4 separate regions of the Homo sapiens genome follow, and all the other regions are reported to be linked to region 2. The links are microRNA targets in miRTarBase. Many come from high-throughput screens and were not tested one by one. Region 2 holds a microRNA gene; each other region holds the end of a gene's coding sequence.

Region 1 (4,000 bases), not on the chromosome of region 2:
GAGTGAGGAGCATCACTTAGTAGTTCAGAGTGTAGGCCCTGGAGGTAGTCTGCCTGTGTTCAGATTCCTACTCCGTTCACTAATCATGTGACTTTGGAGACATTACTTAACCTGTCTGCCTTAGACTCCTCATCGGTGAAGCAAGGATGATAGCAGTACCTAATTTTTTATTGTCTGCATGGTCTAAATAAGCTCTTAGAACAGGGCCTAACTCATAGTAAGCACTGAAGAAATGTTAGCCATTGTTGTTAGTTAACAATTGTTTCATTGCAGATACCCATTGACAACATGACCAATGAGATGGAGCAAAGGGTTGAACCTCATAATGATTACTTCAGTACTCAATTTCTGTTGAACTTTGCTATCCTTGGAACACACAACATTACAGTGGAATCTTCTGTGAAAGATGCCAATGGTATAGTATGGAAGACTGGTCCCAGAACTACCATATTTGTAAAATCCCTGGAAGACCCTTATTCCCAGCAAATTCGCTTACAACAGCAGCAAGCCCAGCAGCCATTACAGCAGCAGCAGCAACGCAATGCCTACACACGGTTTTAACCATGGAATGAATGCACTGCAGACTCTCAAGAGATCAATCAAATTGCCAGAAACAGTTTGGTTTTTCATATGGAATAAGTATTAAAGTTACAGTGTAGTTCATTTATTCATTGATTTTTGTAATGTAATATTCTGGAAAAAATTTTGTTTTCTTAAAAATTTTGTCTGACAGCTGGGCGTGGTTGCTCACGCCTGTAATCCCAGCACTTTGGGAGGCTGAGGTGGGCGGCTCACGAGGAGATCAAGACCATCCTGGCTAACACAGTGAAACCCCGTCTCCACTAAAAAATACAAAAAAATTAGCCAAGCATGGTGGCAGGCGCCTGTAGTCCCAGCTACTTGGGAGGCTGAGGCAGGAGAATGGTGTGAACCTGGGAGGCGGAGCTTGCAGTGAGCCGAGACTGTGCTCCAGCCTGGGCGACAGAGCGAGACTCCGTCTCAAAAAAATAAATAAATACATTTTGTCTGAAAAATAACTGGGATCCTGGCCAGAAAGATTGTTCTTTCTTGTTTTATTATTAGTTTTTTCTGTTGCCAAGCTTTTTTTTCTTTCAAGAATAGTCACATGTTGAGATCACTGAATTGGTAAATTTGACCGCTACTCTTCCAAAATACATCATTTGCTGCCTGACTTAGACCTAGGATTCTGAGTTGTTCATTGGGAGGTTCTGACCAGTCACTACAAGGTTTATCCATGGTAGCAGAACCTGAGTCCTTCTGTAGATGGACTTGAAAGTGTTCCGTGCAACATCCAGCCTTCTGGATTATGAAAGCCCACAGTCTAACAGTATTGAAACATCCTGCTGTATTAGTTCAACCACATATTTATCTCTTCCTGTGCTAAAGCAGTCTTTATTATTTTCATATTTAATTGAAACAAAGAGCAGCTAGCAATTTCATAGAAAATTAATTTGTTTTTTCTGATGTGTCTGCAACTGTGTATAATACAGACATTTCACATTGTTTCCAAAAGTGAAGAACACTCATTTAATATCTTCAATGTTTTAAGTTAGAAGGGGTGGATCTTTTCCTTTGGTTGGTGATTGGTTTGGTTTATACTTGATGAGTTATGCTAGACTGATTGTTTAGAGAGAGCAGTCTCTTTATTACACAGGCTCAGTTTGTTGGGATGCTCAGGGAACAGAGTTTTCTGGTTAGCCAGAAAACCCCCTTTTTTCCTATTTTAATTCTGGTTGAAAACCATGATAAAATAGACTTTCTTAGCACAGTATGGTAGATATAACTTAACTGCTTTTTGATTGGGGATCATTTAGGGCTTCAGGATCACGATTTCTAAACATCAGGGATCATATGGTTGCAGATGCCGATGCTATAAGTAATTTGGCCGGATGCAGCTCCTAAGGTAAAGCAGGGTACTTTCCCTGGAATTTCCTTTTTAAATAAATATCTGTTTCTTTGCTTGTGTTTTGCCTTTTTCTCTTCAAAGTCAACATTAATTCAAAGGAGAATGGAGCTTAAGATAAAAAATAAAAAGGGGTTGTTGTTTTTTTTTTCTTTCTTGTCATGCGGCCTCTGGGACTGAGAAGTGATTTGCAACTTGGGTCTCTCCAAGATTGCTTGCCTTCATGAGCACAACCCATTGTACTGCTAACAGCCAGAACATTCTCATAAAATGTGTACAGATCTACAGTGTCCACGGTTGAATGACATCTCTTCAGATGCAGCCCAGTTGTATGAGGTTCACACAACCTACACAGTCATCTCAGCACCTGGGAACACGTGCTTAGGAAAAATTGCCAGAGCAGTGCAGAACCCCTTGTTCTTTTACCAGGTGTGGAAACAGCTGAATCAGAAAGCCTGGGTTTCACTCTTGGTTCTGGTGAATTAGCTGTGTGACCAAGCAAGTCACTTTACCTCTACATCTTAGGGGTTTTTTTTTTTGTCTGTCAAGTGACTGAATTAGACTGGTTTTCTGGATTCCAGCCTAGAGTTGTATTATCAAGTGACTGAAAGACTAAAAACAAACAAAAACATTTCTTAAATTGGAGATCTTTTTTATTTGTAATTAAGTGGCTATTTTCAGGGTTAAAGTTTACAATGTGGATTTCAAGCTTCTGGTGCCATTCAAGGTAGATTTCTCCAAAAAAGAAGCAAATCTTGTAAGCCATCAATTCCCTTTGAGAACTTCCCAAATGTTATGTTCTTAAAAGATAGGTTTTGATAGCTATGTTTATGAACTTTTTAACTTGGTGTATTATGGGCTCCTGGCACAAACTCAGAAAGGAATTTTTTTTTTTTTTTTTTGAGACAGAGTCTCGCTCTGTTGCCCAGGCTGGAGTGCAGTGGTGCAATCTCAGCTCACTGCAACCTCTACCTCCCAGGCTCCGGTGATTCTCCTGCCTCAGTCTCCCGAGTAGCTGGGATTACAGGCATGTGCCACCACGCCTGGTTAGTTTTTATATTTTTTAGTAGAGATGGGTTTCACCATGTTGGCCAGGATGGTCCCAAACTCTGGTGATCGCCCGTCTTGGCCTCCCAAAGTGCTAGGATTACAGGTGTGAGCCACCGTGCCTGGCCAGGAATTATTAAAATAAAAGCAAGTCCAAGAAGTTCAGAGTATAACTGAACTGAACATAACTCTGAAGCAAGAAAGACTTATTTTAGTATGTCCATTAGATCCAGGATTGGAACTCTGATTTTGTTTAGTAAAATATCTACTGAATTTTTGGCATCAACTGTTAAATGGTTATTTGTGGTGGGGGAAGCTGTTTATAACTTCAACACTACACTAATGAATGAAAAGAAAAATGAGATGCAGAAAAGAAAGATGCATACTAATTGTGAAGTGGGCATGTTCCCTAAATTTAGAAATATGAAGGGCACTTGCTGGTTAAAGCTAGGAAGACAGGACTAGTTTTTCTCAGTGCTTCGTCACTTTGCAGTGCAGTAGTGTTTCCTTATCTGCAGTTTTTGCTTTTCACTTTCACTTTGCTTTTCAGTTTCAGTTCCCAGAGGTGAAGATAGACCACATTCACATAATTTTTATTACAGTATATTGTTACAATTGTTCTATTTTATAATCACTTAATCTCTTTACTGTGCCTATTTTATAAATTAAACTTTGGCATAGGTGTGTATGTATAGGAAAAAATGTAGTGTATATAGGGTTTGGTACTATCCTCAGTCATAGGCATCCACTGGGGATCTTGGAACGTATCTCCTACTGATAAGGGGGACTGCTGTGTAGTCCAGTGACTGAGAGCACCAGCCTTTGGGGCCATACTGCCGAGGTTCCAATCTTAACTTTATGACCTTGGACAAGCTACTTAGTCTCTCTATGCCTCAATTTCCTTATTCCTAATAGAGAAACATATTAGTGTTTCATGGGGTAGGTATGAGAATTAAGTGAGTTAGTATAGAATTTACTTAGAACATGCTTGGCATATAGTAAAACAGATATATAAGCATTTGCTTTTAT
Region 2 (4,338 bases):
GTTTTTTAAAAAACATACATTTCTCCACTGAACTGCAGAGATGCCTACTGTTAAACACATGTGGGACTGTTTCTGTACCCTTGATTCCATTCTATTGGGCGATTTAAATATGCTTGTGTTCACATCTATTTTAATTATTGTGGTGTCATAAGTCTTCGTCTCTGGTAGTGTAAATCAGACAACTTTGTTCATTAGAAGTGTCAATTTTCCACTAAAGAACCTGTTAAGATTATTGGGCTTATACTGAATCTAAAGATGAGTTCAGGGAACTGTCCCATCCGTGAATATTATGTAGGTCTGCTTTAATTTTTTTTGAGACAGTCTCGCTCTATCGCCCAGGCTGGAGTGCAGTGGCATGATCTCAGCTCACTGCAACCTCCACCTCCTGGATTCAAGCAATTCTCTTGCCTTCAGCCTCCCAAATAGCTAGGATTACAGGTGAGTGCTACCGCACCGGCTAATTTTTTGTATTTTTACTAGAGACGGGGTTTCGCCATGTTGGCCAGGCTGGTCGTGAACTCCTGACCTCAACTGATCCGCCCACCTTGGTCAGGTCTGCTTTAATTTCTCACATTAGTGTTTTACAGTTTACATTAGAGGTGTTACATACACATCTTTCATTGAATTTATTCCTGGCTATTTGATATTTTTGGTGCAATTATAAATTATACACATACTTACATATAAAACATAAGGTGATTTCATTTTCTAATGACTTGTTGCTAGTATACAGGACTGCCAACCCATCACCCCCTCTTTCTATTTCATGCTGTGATGTTCATTTTACAGTTGAGAAAACACACCTTGAGAAGGGAAGGGAGCCAAGGTCACACAGCAAGCAAGGAGCGCTGCCAGGCCTCTGACCCTGGGCTCTACCTTCAAAGGTCAAAGATTAAGGTGCCCACAAGAAGCCCCTGCCAGTGTGTGGGGGAGTATCCAGACCTCACCTGTTGTCCAGGATGGGCCCTATCTTCTGCAGAGACTTGGCCACATTGAAGCGGACATTGGCAACCGGGTCCCCAGCCATGCGCAGAACCGTGGGTAGCATGTGCTTGGTGGTGATGTCCTGCCCACAGACCTCAGACAGCACCTGGGGGCCAGTGAGTGGCAGGGGTGAGTATGCAAAGCTCCTGGCTAACTCTCATTTCCTGCTGCCTCTGACCAGGCCACTCTGGTGATCATCAGGCCCCACAGAGGCTGAGCAATACGGGTGACTCAGTTAGTGGAGTGAATCTCCCAACTCCACTAACACCATCCTAACACCATGTCCCAGTTTCTCTGTCCTCAGGCTTCCCTTAATTATTCTGGAGATCGACCTTAATTACCAAGCCCTAGGATCCCTCCTTAAAGCAATGCTCTCCAGAGAGTGGCGTGGGAAGAAATGATCAGAACACTTAGTTATATTTATTTTTAAATCCCTTCCTTTCTAGCCCTGTGTATGGTTTACACATAAATAAGTAGTACATGAGATAATTATAATCGTAGGAAAAGCAAATAGACAGGAGCACTTCCTACCTGTAGCATAACTGTTCTAAGCCCTGTGCGTGTATAACCTGATTAATCTTCACGCTCACCAGGCTGTGATTACCAGTATGAATTCTTTACAGTATGAATTATTTACAAATGAGAAGACCAAAGCATCGGTTAGGTAACTATCCAAGGTCCATAGCTAATATATGGCAGTACCAGAATTTAAAACTAGGTCTGACCTAGAGCCCATACACTCACCCAACGCACCACAGATAGAGACACACATTTCTCAGGGAAGGAGAGGGGTGCTCATAAAGCTTGAGATCGCTGCTCCAACAGGTCAAGTCTCCCAGGCCCTGGGTCCCTCACCATCCAAGTCCCCAGTCCCAGAGGCCCTATGACCCTGACCCTGGGAGCCCCACCCCCTTGCCTGCAGTTCCCCAAGGACTCATCTCTGGATAGAAGATGCACTCCATGTCTCCATTCCCAAGCCAGGTGTCTCCCTTGGGGAACCCTCTAGCATCCCTCCTCTCCCACGCGCTCCAGTTCCCTAGGGATGGGCCAGCAGGCAGGTGGAAGGCTCACATTGATGCAGAAGAGCGTAGTCATGCGGTGCAGGTAGTTGGGGTCTCCGGACATGGCCAAGACCTTGGGGATGATTGTGGCATGGGCCCACTCCTTCCCAAACTTTTCCACTAGCTTCTTCAGGTTGCTGGTGGCTGCCTCGCGGATGGCATATACTGCAGAAGGGTGAGGGTGAGAGAGACAGGGATTTGGAGGTGAAGAACTGATGTGGGCAAAATGTAGGTCACACTCACCATGGCTTACAAAGCAGCCCCTAGGTGCCAGGCTGCATGTGAGCCAAAGAGAGAAAAAAGGACTTACTATGTGCTATATCTAGTAACTGTTTTTTTTTATACAGTATCTTTTCAACCACTCCAAGAGGTAGGTTCCACTACTGGCTTCATTTTACAGATGGGCAAACTAAGGCTCTAAGAAGTGATTTGCCTAAATTATGTGGCACTTATTACTTCAAACAGGGCTTCACAGAGATAAATATTACCTTTTATTTTTTACCTCTCTTAGTGTAAACAATGAGCCATTCTCATAATGGCCCCAAGGCACCAGAATAAGAAGTTTCAAAGAATGAGTGTGGGGCTCATTCAAAGACAGCAGGTGACTTGTTTTAGATCTGACAGCCCCAAGGGCAGGATTCAAAACCCTGGTCTGGCTGCTCAGTGGCCCTCTGGCTCTCCACTATACCAGGCAACCCCTGGGTGATCTGTTTCGTCCTCCTCCCACTCAACACTTCTCTAGGACTCTAACAAGCATGCGAGCTGGTCCATACGAGCATCCAGCGGCGTGGGGAGTGACTCTAGCCTCCTCCACTGCCCGCCACAGCCCCAGCCAATCCATCCTGCCTTTCTGGAGCTCCCATCTCCTCTTGCTGCTCCTGTGAAGGTACTCACCATGATCCACAAGCCAGGCCATGCACAAGGAGTTAAGTTTCTCATCAAAGAACTCCACTCCCTACAGGAGAAACCAAGGGTTCCAAGGTAAGCGTTCCAGGAGAGCAAACAGGGGGAGCTGCTAGCCACATCCCATGGAACCTACACCCACCCTAGAAAGACCGGACACTTCTCAACTTTGTCTGAGGTGCTCCTTTCCCTCCTCTCTCTTATTGAATCCAATGCATCTTTTAAGGCCCTATTTCCTGGGTCCCTTCCTTCGACTCCCCAGGCAGTTGTCACAGCCTCCACTAAGCCTTCAAAGCCCCGTTTCCCCATCACAGCCCTGGACATACTGCACCTCCCCTGAGGCAGCACTGCCTGGCCCCCAGGCCTCCTCACTCACCAGCTGTCCAGCCAGGAGGGGCATGTACTCAATGATGGCCAGCCGCACCCGCCACTTGGCGTCCTCAGCCAGCTCCACAATGGCAGGGAGCAGGGACTGGGACAGCTGCCGGATGCCAATCACCTCGTTCACACAGTCCAGGTTAGAGATGATGTTCAGCCGTACCTCAGGGCACTGAGGAGAGGAAAGAAGGATTCTGAGAGAATGCAATGCACACAGCAACCCAGGACAGGATGGAAAGAGCTCAGCTGCATCAACTTTTATGGACATCTCCCGAGGGACTACTCCTGTCCAAGCCCAGCTCCCCGTTCTGGGAACACATTAACGGCACACAAAAAGCAAGCAGCATGGATCACTAACTTAAGCAGATTTTTAAACCTTACAATAGTATCACAAGAAATGTTTATCCATTTTGAAAAGACTTTAAGAATCACAGTAGGAAAATACAGCACCCTGGAAAAAACAGGCAGACATGATTCTTCTAATCCTAGCTCCGCTGCTTGCTAACAAGGGTTCCTTTCTGGGTATCAATCCACAACATGGGAGAAGGGAAGGAAGAAAACTATTTCCTTATTAAAACTATTTTAGTCTAAAAAAATAAATAAATAAAGGAGCACTGAAATGAATCAATAACCAAGTGAACAAGCCTGGCAGGCTTGGGCTGTTGAAACCCTGCACATTCCGAGGATAGGACTGGCCCTTGCCCAGCTCCAGCCCTTGCTGTGTGAGCCTCAAGCTGCTGAACATGTGCATGAGAAGAGAAGGCTCAGAGACTATACCTCACCCATTTAAAAAGACTTATTTTTGGTGCACCAGTAAAAAGGTAGCCTTTTTCATTTAGACAAGTTTATAAATTCTGGTGAGAGTCAAAATGTAAAATATAAAGTTTATAAATCTAAAATGGAAATCTCAAATATAAGTCAGATGAATTCCTCACACCAAGAAAACCATGCTGGTTCTTTTCTTCTAAGAGAAGCTGCCCTGAGACAGGCTGGCTGCCAGCACACGATTACC
Region 3 (4,332 bases), not on the chromosome of region 2:
CGTCACAGTATTTCCAAACTGGAAGTCTAAAACTTGTGTTAGTTGACTGGCCTTTCTCCACTGACCACATCATCTTCATCTGGAGATCCCCAGCTTTGAGCAGACAGTAGGTTCTTAATTGCCAATGTGGAAGGAATAGGCCTATCAATTGTGCGCATGAATGAATCTACAGCAGCATGAAGCCAACAGAGGGATTCTAAATTCAAAATATATTCATCCTTCCAACTGTTGCATTAAAGAGATGGTATGTGGCTGGGAGTGCTGGCTCATACCTGTAATCCCAACAGTTTGGGAGGCTGAGGCAGAGGAGGATTGCTTGAGCTCAGGAGTTCAAGACCATCCTGGACAGCATAATAAGACCTTGTCTTTACAAAATTAAATTTAAAAATTAGCTGCGTGTGGTGGTACACGCCTGTGGTCCCAGCTACTCAGGAGGCTGAGGTGGGAGGATGTCTTGAGGCTACAGTGAGCCGTGATCATGCCACTGCACTCCAGCCTGGGCGTCAGAGTGAGACCCTATCTTACAAAAAAAAACCCAAAAAGAACAGTATGTGTGTCAATTCCGTTTGCTATTATTTTTCTGAGAAAATATAAGAATCCTGACATTTTGAAACATGAAGAATAAATGTTGAAGTGTTAATAGTAAAACATCCTCACTTTGATGGTTGTAGCCTTTGAAGAAGATGGTGGAGAGAATTCGCAAGTTCCAGATTCTCAATGATGAGATCATCACCATCCTGGATAAGTACCTGAAGTCAGGCGACGGGGAGGGCACGCCAGTGGAGCATGTGCGCTGCTTCCAGCCGCCCATCCACCAGTCCCTCGCCAGCAGCTGAGGGCACGCGCTGCACTCCGTAACTCAACATGGCATGCCTTTCTCTCCGTAAACTATTTAGTGAGATTTTTAGGGACTATTTTTCAGTATCTCTGTACCTGTTAAAGGGGGTGCTTTTCGATCTAAAAACTTAATTTTATAAAATTGACTTATTTTTCTAGACTAAAATTGTATATGCTTTTGGTAATTAGGAACTCTTGAGAATATTGGCTGCTGATTGTTGCCATCACGTTCCTACAAAATTGTTTTTCTATGGGATGTTCTGGCAGCTGTGTCATAAAATGCTGCTGGGTTCATTCATTCATTCCATAAGAAACTTAATACCAGCAAATGCATTAAATCCCTTGCCAGTTACCATTAACTGTAACTATTTAGCTTTTGTTTAGGGATCTTTCTGATGGTCTTTTATGAGCAATCTTAGTTCTAAGTCATTGTTCCCATCCCTTTTTTGTGTGTTTCAGAAAATAGTGAACTTGATTCCCCTGCTTCCACTAAATCCAGTTGTGACAAAATCTAACGTGACATCAGATCGAAAGGTTATAGAAATAAAACTAATGAGATCTATTTGTGTTCATTTATTTACTCTAACCCTGTGCTGCCTGGCTTGGCAAGGAACTCTAACCTGAACTCACATACCAGGCCAGCTGGGATGGAGGTCACCTCTAAGGCTGAGGTGGGATGGGACCGTGACACCATCCCATATACCGCTCACCTCAGCACAGGTTTAGCTTTATATTTAGGGTTCCGCAGGCAAATGAGGTGTAAAACGGCCGTGTTGGCTGCTCCAATCTGGATATGAAGAGGCTACTCAGTGCCTCTCTGTTACCTGTGCCCATGACCTGGAGGAAGCCAGCAATGTGGGAGGAGATCAGTCAGGCCCAGTGGGTGCTGCACAAAGGGACCGGGAGCACCGAGTCCAGCCTTCAGCTGTCCCCGATCCACAGGGCTCACATGGCTGGAGCTGGTTCACATGATCTGTCAGAATGAAAAACAATCGGTCTAGACTACCAGTAGAGTCACGAACATGTTTGAGAAACTAAAGCCATATTTTAAAAAGTACTAAGGCAATGAGGTTCTGAAAATCCTAACTAACTGAATGGAAAAAGATGCTATGCCTGTTTATTGTAGATGAATACTACAGATAAACACAAGTCCAGCATGATTAACTGAACTCACTTTATATTGTAGCCTGGCAGTCATTTTACATTATTTGGAGTATTGCAACCTTCACCAATTTTAAAATTTTCTATGGATGCCAAGTTGCCATAAAAAGCAGGCCTCGCCTACTTTTCCGGAGGCCTTTGGAAACTGTCCAGAAGCATATGATGCACGGCACAGAAAAGTAGTAAGTGTACGAACCATCCTGTTACACTGCCAAACTCACTCAAGTGACATGAAGCCTAACAAACAATTATTCTTTCTTTATAAAAAGTTCCCTAAAAATGCTTTTGGTAATGTGAATTAATAACCCTGGGGCCAGCATTCTGCTGCAGATTTAGAGGTGGTAGCTGTGCTTATCTTAGAAACTACAGAATAGGATGAAAAATTATGGTAAAACTTAATCAATTACCAAGTTTTATAAGGCTTAATTATATACCAAATATGTAATACCTTAGGTATAAGACAATCTCAAGTGCTACAAAATGTTAAATAAGAATTTATTATTTATTAACCTATGCATGTTCAAATGAGTCTCTGTCCTCAAGGGGGAGAAAACTGGTTCTTTTATGTACAAAGCACAGATGTAGGTACAGTATATAAACAGATACGTAGTACATCTGTAGTATTAAAATGGCATGGGAGGAGGCAGTTAGAAAAAACATCTAAAACAGCTCCTTAGAAGGCCAATAATAAAGTTGGAAAAAAGGGAGTTTCCACGCAGCCAGTGGTGAGCTGCATGGGATACCAGCACCATTGGCAGGGGAGGCCCTCGGGGAGTGATGGCTTGGCGCTGGCGCACCACTGGGTAACCTCCAGGCAGGAGCCACAGGCTGGAACAGGCGAACACTTTCTTCCCATCACCTAGGTGGAAATTAATTCTGCCAATACTTTTTTTTAAAGGCCAGTCAATGGTTATGAGTGGATAGGTTCAAAGCTGAATGGAGTTCATTAGACCTTTTTTATTATTCTACCTTTTCTGCATATGTTTGCAGTTTTCCATCGACTTCTTCATAAACAAACATTTTCTAGAAACCAAAATATGTAGTGGCCCAAAGGAGCTCTTAAGCAAAGTACTTGGTACAAAGAGACCATATTCTATAAACATGTTAAGTTTGTTCTAAGCATTCAGACTTTTAGAATAAGAACTTCATTTCAACTTTTTATTATAACATGAGCTAAATTTAAGAAACAACCCTAGTCTTCTATTTCCCAGAGCTGTTCAAAGTCTAAATGACAATATAACTCATTATGAAAATATACTGAAAAGTACAAGAGCTGATGTAAAACGGTAATCAAGGTTCCAGGCATCATGGGATTAGGGTAACTGAAGAATAAACCCAGCCAGGCTGCAACAGCAGGCAGGATGTGCTGGCTTGATGAGGTGCTAAGGCCATCGAATGCTCAGAGGAAGCCGGATTCACGGTGATCATCTCAACCTGAGAAATCGTTCCTTGGGGTGATTTCTGCCCTTTTTTTTGTTTTGTAAGAAAGAGGTTCCTTCATTCAGTAACTTAGTTTTCCCTTAATAAATATTTCAAAAATAAAACCAATCATCATCAAACAAACAGGAGCCACTTTTGTAGGTAAGGTAAATCACAGGATAATGTATTGGGATAACTCTGTTTTTTTAAAATAAAAAAGCCTTACATGGTCAGGGATTGATGGAGTGGGGATGACAAATGCACATTTCAGACTTTCATCACCAATGAAAAAATAAAGCATTTTCATAGACTTAAAACTGTCATTAGTGCATTCGGCTTTTGGAGAAGGGATGAAAATGTAAAATACTTCTACAACAATAAAATGTTAATAGAAATCGTCATGTGCTGAGGTCATTTTAGTGAGCTACCATTGTTTGTTTAAATACAAGAAAAGTAATTTCTTGGTCCAAATTAGTGAAATCTTTAAAAAGATTGCCTTTAAAGAACATTATTTGAGGACAATGTTTTTTCAGACACATTCTGATGATATTCAAATTCACTTCATAACAATCACAGATTAACCTTTAATTACACCTTTCTTAAAAAGCTGTCAGATTTCCATTTCTTCGGGAGACATTTTCACCAGTGTGTTGTTCGATTCCACAGGTTAAGCTTTCTTCATTATTATTAAGAACTTCATACATATTAGAGAGATTGCCATTCATTGCTTTCTCGTCTTTTCGAAAAGACACAGGCAGACTTGCTAGACTAAAGCTGACGTCTTTAAAGGCATGCAACAAGAATATCCCCACAATGATTGTAAAGAAGCCACTCAAAGTACCAATGACATCGTCAACAGGCATATCTTGCCACTCCTTAAAAAGAATAGCTGAACAAGTTAAAACTGATGTTGTA
Region 4 (4,345 bases), not on the chromosome of region 2:
TATATAAAATTTAGACTCAATATTTTATTAACAGAAAGGTGTTATATCCAGTGTTATTTTACATAAGCTTTTAAGCAATGGGCTAAATAGAATGACTTAACTAGTAGCTTTGTCTCTATTTCTCCTCTTAGAAAAAAAATTAAGCTCAAGACAAATATTATACCATTTTGATGGTTTCATCCAAGTTGCTAATCAACATTTTTAATTTGTAACGTTACCAAGCTAATTAATATGCAACTGCTTTATTACAACTAGACTCATTAATATCTAAGCATATAATCTATTCCCATAGAAACTGTAGAGGGCAGGCCAGGTACAGTGGCTCATGCCTGTAATCCCAGCACTTTGGGAGGCCGAGGCGGGCGGATCACCTGAGGTCAGGAGTTCAAGACCAGTCTGACCAACATGGACAAACCCCGTCTCCCCTAAAAATACAAAATTAGCCAGATGTGGTGGCACATGCCTATAATCCCGGCTACTTGGGAAGGCTGAGGCAGTAGAATCACTTGAACCTGGGAAGCAGAGGCCATTGCACTCCAGCCTGGGCAACAAGAGCGAAACTCCATCTCAAAAAAAAAAAAAAAAAAAAAAGAAACTGCTGTAGAAAATAATTAAAAAAAAACTTTTTCCCCTATTCTATTAGCGAAAGACTTTTTAGTTGTAATTTGGAGAAATGTAATTGAAAATATCTTCAACAAAGAGTGAGGAAGGCTCCTGAGGGAGCCCGGAGCGCTGAAAGAGGAGAAAAGCTATACCTTGATGGAATCGGGATTGCCAGTTTTCCTGTCTCCAGCATGAATGCTTGGGATCAGAAAGATGAGTTCAAACCCCAGCTGTTAAGCCTTAATTTCATTATCAGTAAAGATACATTTAATAGTTCAGGGTTGTATTAAATAAGGCGATTTAAGGAGATACATTTAAGAGTAGCTCAAATTTCCTAATTCCATTACACTGGACATAAAAGGTTTTTTTCCTAATTACTGACGTTCATATAAGCACCTTTAATCCAAATAATTCAGGATACTAGAGTACTGAGTAGAAATCTTAATGTGTAAGAGCAAACTAAATGAAACAGCTAAAACAGACAAAACACTTTTTTAAAATCCCTAAGTCAAATTAATTAGTTACATCCTGAGAACAACCTAGTTCAGCATTTGCCTTGGCAAAGAAGTTATGAGTCCTCATCCATCCTGTACCAGTGCAATTCAATAGCTATTAAGTGAGCCAAGTTACAGAAGACATAATTTCTCCCTATGAAGTGGTACAGTCTAAGAGGGAGACAAGATAATATTAAAATGCAATGTGAGCTGGGTGTGGTGGCTCACACCTATAATCCTAGCACTTTGGGAGGCCAAGGTGGGAGGACAGCTTGAGCTCAGGAGTTTGAGACTAGACTGGGCAGCATATGAGTGAGACCTCATATCTACAAAAAAAATTTTTAAATTAGGCTTGGAGACACACATCTGTAGTTCCTGCTACTTGGGGGGCTGAGGCAGGAGGATCACTTGAGCATAGTAGGTCAAGGCTGCACTGAGCTGTGTTCACACCATTGCATTCCAGCCTGGGCAACAGAACAAGACCTTGGCTTAAACAAACAAACAAACCACAAATTGCAATGTGATTTTTTATGCATACAAGAATGTATTAAGCACTATGGAAACACAGATGAGGAAGCAGTTAAATTGGTGTAAGAGGAAGTTAAGAAGTGTTAAGGAGAGTTACCAAGGAAAGGTGATATTTAAGCCAGGCCTAAAAGGAGTGGGCAATCACCAGACAGAAGACAGGAGAGAAAAGGACATTTTAGGTAAAGGGAACAATAAATATACACTCAATGCCTAGAGACACTTAGGAAGAGACAGAGAATCTAAACCATCACAAATAATGCTCCAAAGAAAGGGCTCTTCTGAGAAAAAAGGCTGATTTTCTGGAATCCATGTGAGAGAAACCAACCTGCCATCTTTTGTTGGTAAAATAATTTAAAAATACAAGAATGATAATGAAAATTAGCTTTATTTATGTAATTTAGAAAAAATGATTGTAGTGTTAGAGTTTGTCAAATGTTTTCACTCTGAACAATTTACAATAGTATTTATATACAAACATAATAAAATAGGTACATCACATTGTTCTTGCTTCAAAATGTCTTCTCAATTCTGACATGCTTCTATCACTTCGGTTTGTAATTTTTAAGAGGGAAATGCTCTGTTTTGACACAGTGCTTGATTCACACAGTATAACACTGAAGTAGAAGGAGAATCAACAATCATGAACACAGTTAAAAAATATTTTTCAACCAATATGACTTTATCATTAATCTTTTTTCTATAATAAAATGTTTCCTGTTAAAAAAAATACTTGTATTCACCTGATGACCTAAATTTGTTGTACTAAATTTGGCATTTATATAAACCCATAGTTGATCTAAATACAATGTAGATATGAACCTAGGTTAAAACTCATTGATACAAATGTTTGCCACAAATGAAAATGAACAAAATTGGTAAGAACAGAGGTAAACAGAAAAATCCATTTGAAAAATAGTGGAAATGGCTTATTCTATTTAAAATGAGTAAGACTCAATTTCTGAACCCAATATAAACTAAACCAAAAGATGGTGGAAAACCATGATATAGACACCAAATCTTATGTTGCACTGTAAGGCTGTAAGTAATTTGTACTATTGTATACTGGATAATCCTAGACCAGGTTTCCTAAATAGCTCTCCAATCATTTTATCTTCTTGGAGAAATCAGAGAAAGTTTAATACAATTACTGAATAAGGCAGAATTTTTTTTTTTTTTTTTTAGATGGAGTCTCACTCTGTCGCCCAGGCTGGAGTGCAGTGGCACAATCTTGGCTCACTGCAACCTCTGCCTGCCAGGTTCAAGCGATTTTCCTGCCTCGGCCTCCTGAGTAGCTGGGATTACAGGTGTGTGCCACCACACCCGGCTAATTTTTGTATTTTTAGTAGAGACGGGGTTTCACCATGTTGGTCAGGCTGGTCTCAAACTCCCGACTTCGTGATCCGCCCGCCTTGGCCTTCCAAAGTGCTGGAATTACAGGGATGAGCCACTGTGCCGGGCCAAAGCAGAATTTTAAATCAGCAATTGGGATACAATATTAGTGCAGATAATTTACACTAGAGTCATATTTATATCTGTCACAGTATTAAGTATACCACATATGTATGGACTGTTAGAAGAAATTCATTTCATTTTTAAAGCAGTGGATTGTTTAGTAAGTTTAGTTCTTTAGCACTTTCTTAAAATTCCTGGCAAGTTAGCTCCATTGTCTTTTTAAATAGAAAAACAAAACAAAACAAAACACAAACCCCACGCACACACACAAAAATGTTAAGTATGCTGTTACTTTGAAGAGTCACAGCTATTTAAGGTAAAACAATCAACTAGACCTCTAAGGGCACTTGTGTCTACAATGTCCCTTTTGTCACCAAAGGCAATGATCAAGTATTTATTATATTAAGGTGCTTACTATTCCAAAAAAAAAATCAGAGGAAACTGGTCTTTAATTGGATGCTTGAGTTTTTTCCAGGACTCTTAGTATATTTAGATGTTGGTATCTTGACTTTGACACTTTCCTGATTGCCCTTTATAGCAGCCTCAAGGCGGGCTTTTAGGGCTGGAGAAGAAGCCACTAAACTTTTAAAAACAGATGAATACTGAGGTCCAATTTGCATGAGATTTTGTAGAGCAAAGTCATGTAAATTTCTCATTATGGAAGTTGCTGATCCCAGAGAATTTTCATCCAAAAGGAAGGAAATGAGGATGGGCAAAAGACAGGCCACCAGCTGAGCGCCTAGAAAGTAAACAAATAATATAAGTTCAGTGACATAAATGTTTCTAACAAAAGCCTGCAAATGCACTTGATCTGTATACATTTTTCCCCACTAAAGAAAACAATTCGTCCAATCTCTTCTAAATTAATACTAAATAATATCAATACTTGGGATTAACATAACACCTTTCAATGAATGTGAAATACAGATATAATGTGACTGATTGTTTTGCAATTTAAATAACAGTAAAATTCTGATTTTTGTTGAGACTGAGTATGAATTTAGTGCTGACACTTACGATGGTGTTCTTCAGCAACAGTAACCAGTGTTTCTAAGACCTTTATGCCTTCTTGGAAGATCTCAAGCTCAGCAGTGTTTTCAGGTTTTCTCTTGTCTATTTCCTGCAGTTTTTCCATGATACAGGATGCTAAAGAGTAAATGTATGGGTAGGAAACAGCTGGATTTGGATACTGAAAGATGGAATGTAGGAGCTGGTAGGTCTTGATTTGTACCTAATAAGGTAAGAGAAAAGAATAGCAAATACTATAA

The links. Region 2 holds the annotated microRNA hsa-miR-6801-5p (UGGUCAGAGGCAGCAGGAAAUGA, at 1,142-1,164, opposite strand). A microRNA usually pairs through its seed, bases 2 to 8, with sites in the 3' UTR of a target mRNA and lowers its output. Matches are read on the target gene's strand: a 7mer-m8 pairs with bases 2 to 8, a 7mer-A1 pairs with bases 2 to 7 and ends in A, and an 8mer does both.
Region 1: the mRNA of INTS7 is a reported target of hsa-miR-6801-5p. Seed matches in the 3' UTR shown: 8mer at 1,229-1,236.
Region 3: the mRNA of NIPA2 is a reported target of hsa-miR-6801-5p. Seed matches in the 3' UTR shown: 7mer-A1 at 3,645-3,651.
Region 4: miRTarBase lists HEATR5A as a target of hsa-miR-6801-5p. Seed matches in the 3' UTR shown: 7mer-A1 at 2,991-2,997.

The regions. Positions count from the first base shown.
Region 1 is chr1:211,938,385-211,942,384 of GRCh38, reverse strand. It overlaps INTS7 (integrator complex subunit 7), which reads left to right. Exons shown (of 20, transcript NM_015434.4): 20 at 274-1,982. The coding sequence ends at 561. Among named protein-coding and RNA genes, the nearest start is that of INTS7, 95 kb to the left of the region's middle. RefSeq lists an enhancer at 3,401-3,480.
Region 2 is chr19:52,218,851-52,223,188 of GRCh38, reverse strand. MIR6801 (microRNA 6801) reads right to left here and starts at 1,169; the gene lies at 1,091-1,169. PPP2R1A (protein phosphatase 2 scaffold subunit Aalpha) reads right to left here. Exons shown (of 15, transcript NM_014225.6): 10 at 3,325-3,498; 11 at 2,940-3,000; 12 at 2,056-2,210; 13 at 948-1,090. RefSeq lists an enhancer at 430-1,629.
Region 3 is chr15:22,866,532-22,870,863 of GRCh38, reverse strand. It overlaps NIPA2 (NIPA magnesium transporter 2), which reads right to left. Exons shown (of 8, transcript NM_030922.7): 8 at 2,480-4,332. The coding sequence ends at 4,017. It overlaps CYFIP1 (cytoplasmic FMR1 interacting protein 1), which reads left to right. Exons shown (of 31, transcript NM_014608.6): 31 at 672-3,812. The coding sequence ends at 836. Among named protein-coding and RNA genes, the nearest start is that of NIPA2, 30 kb to the right of the region's middle.
Region 4 is chr14:31,289,797-31,294,141 of GRCh38, forward strand. HEATR5A (HEAT repeat containing 5A) reads right to left here. Exons shown (of 36, transcript NM_015473.4): 35 at 4,095-4,308; 36 at 1,992-3,816. The coding sequence ends at 3,509. Among named protein-coding and RNA genes, the nearest start is that of HECTD1, 84 kb to the left of the region's middle.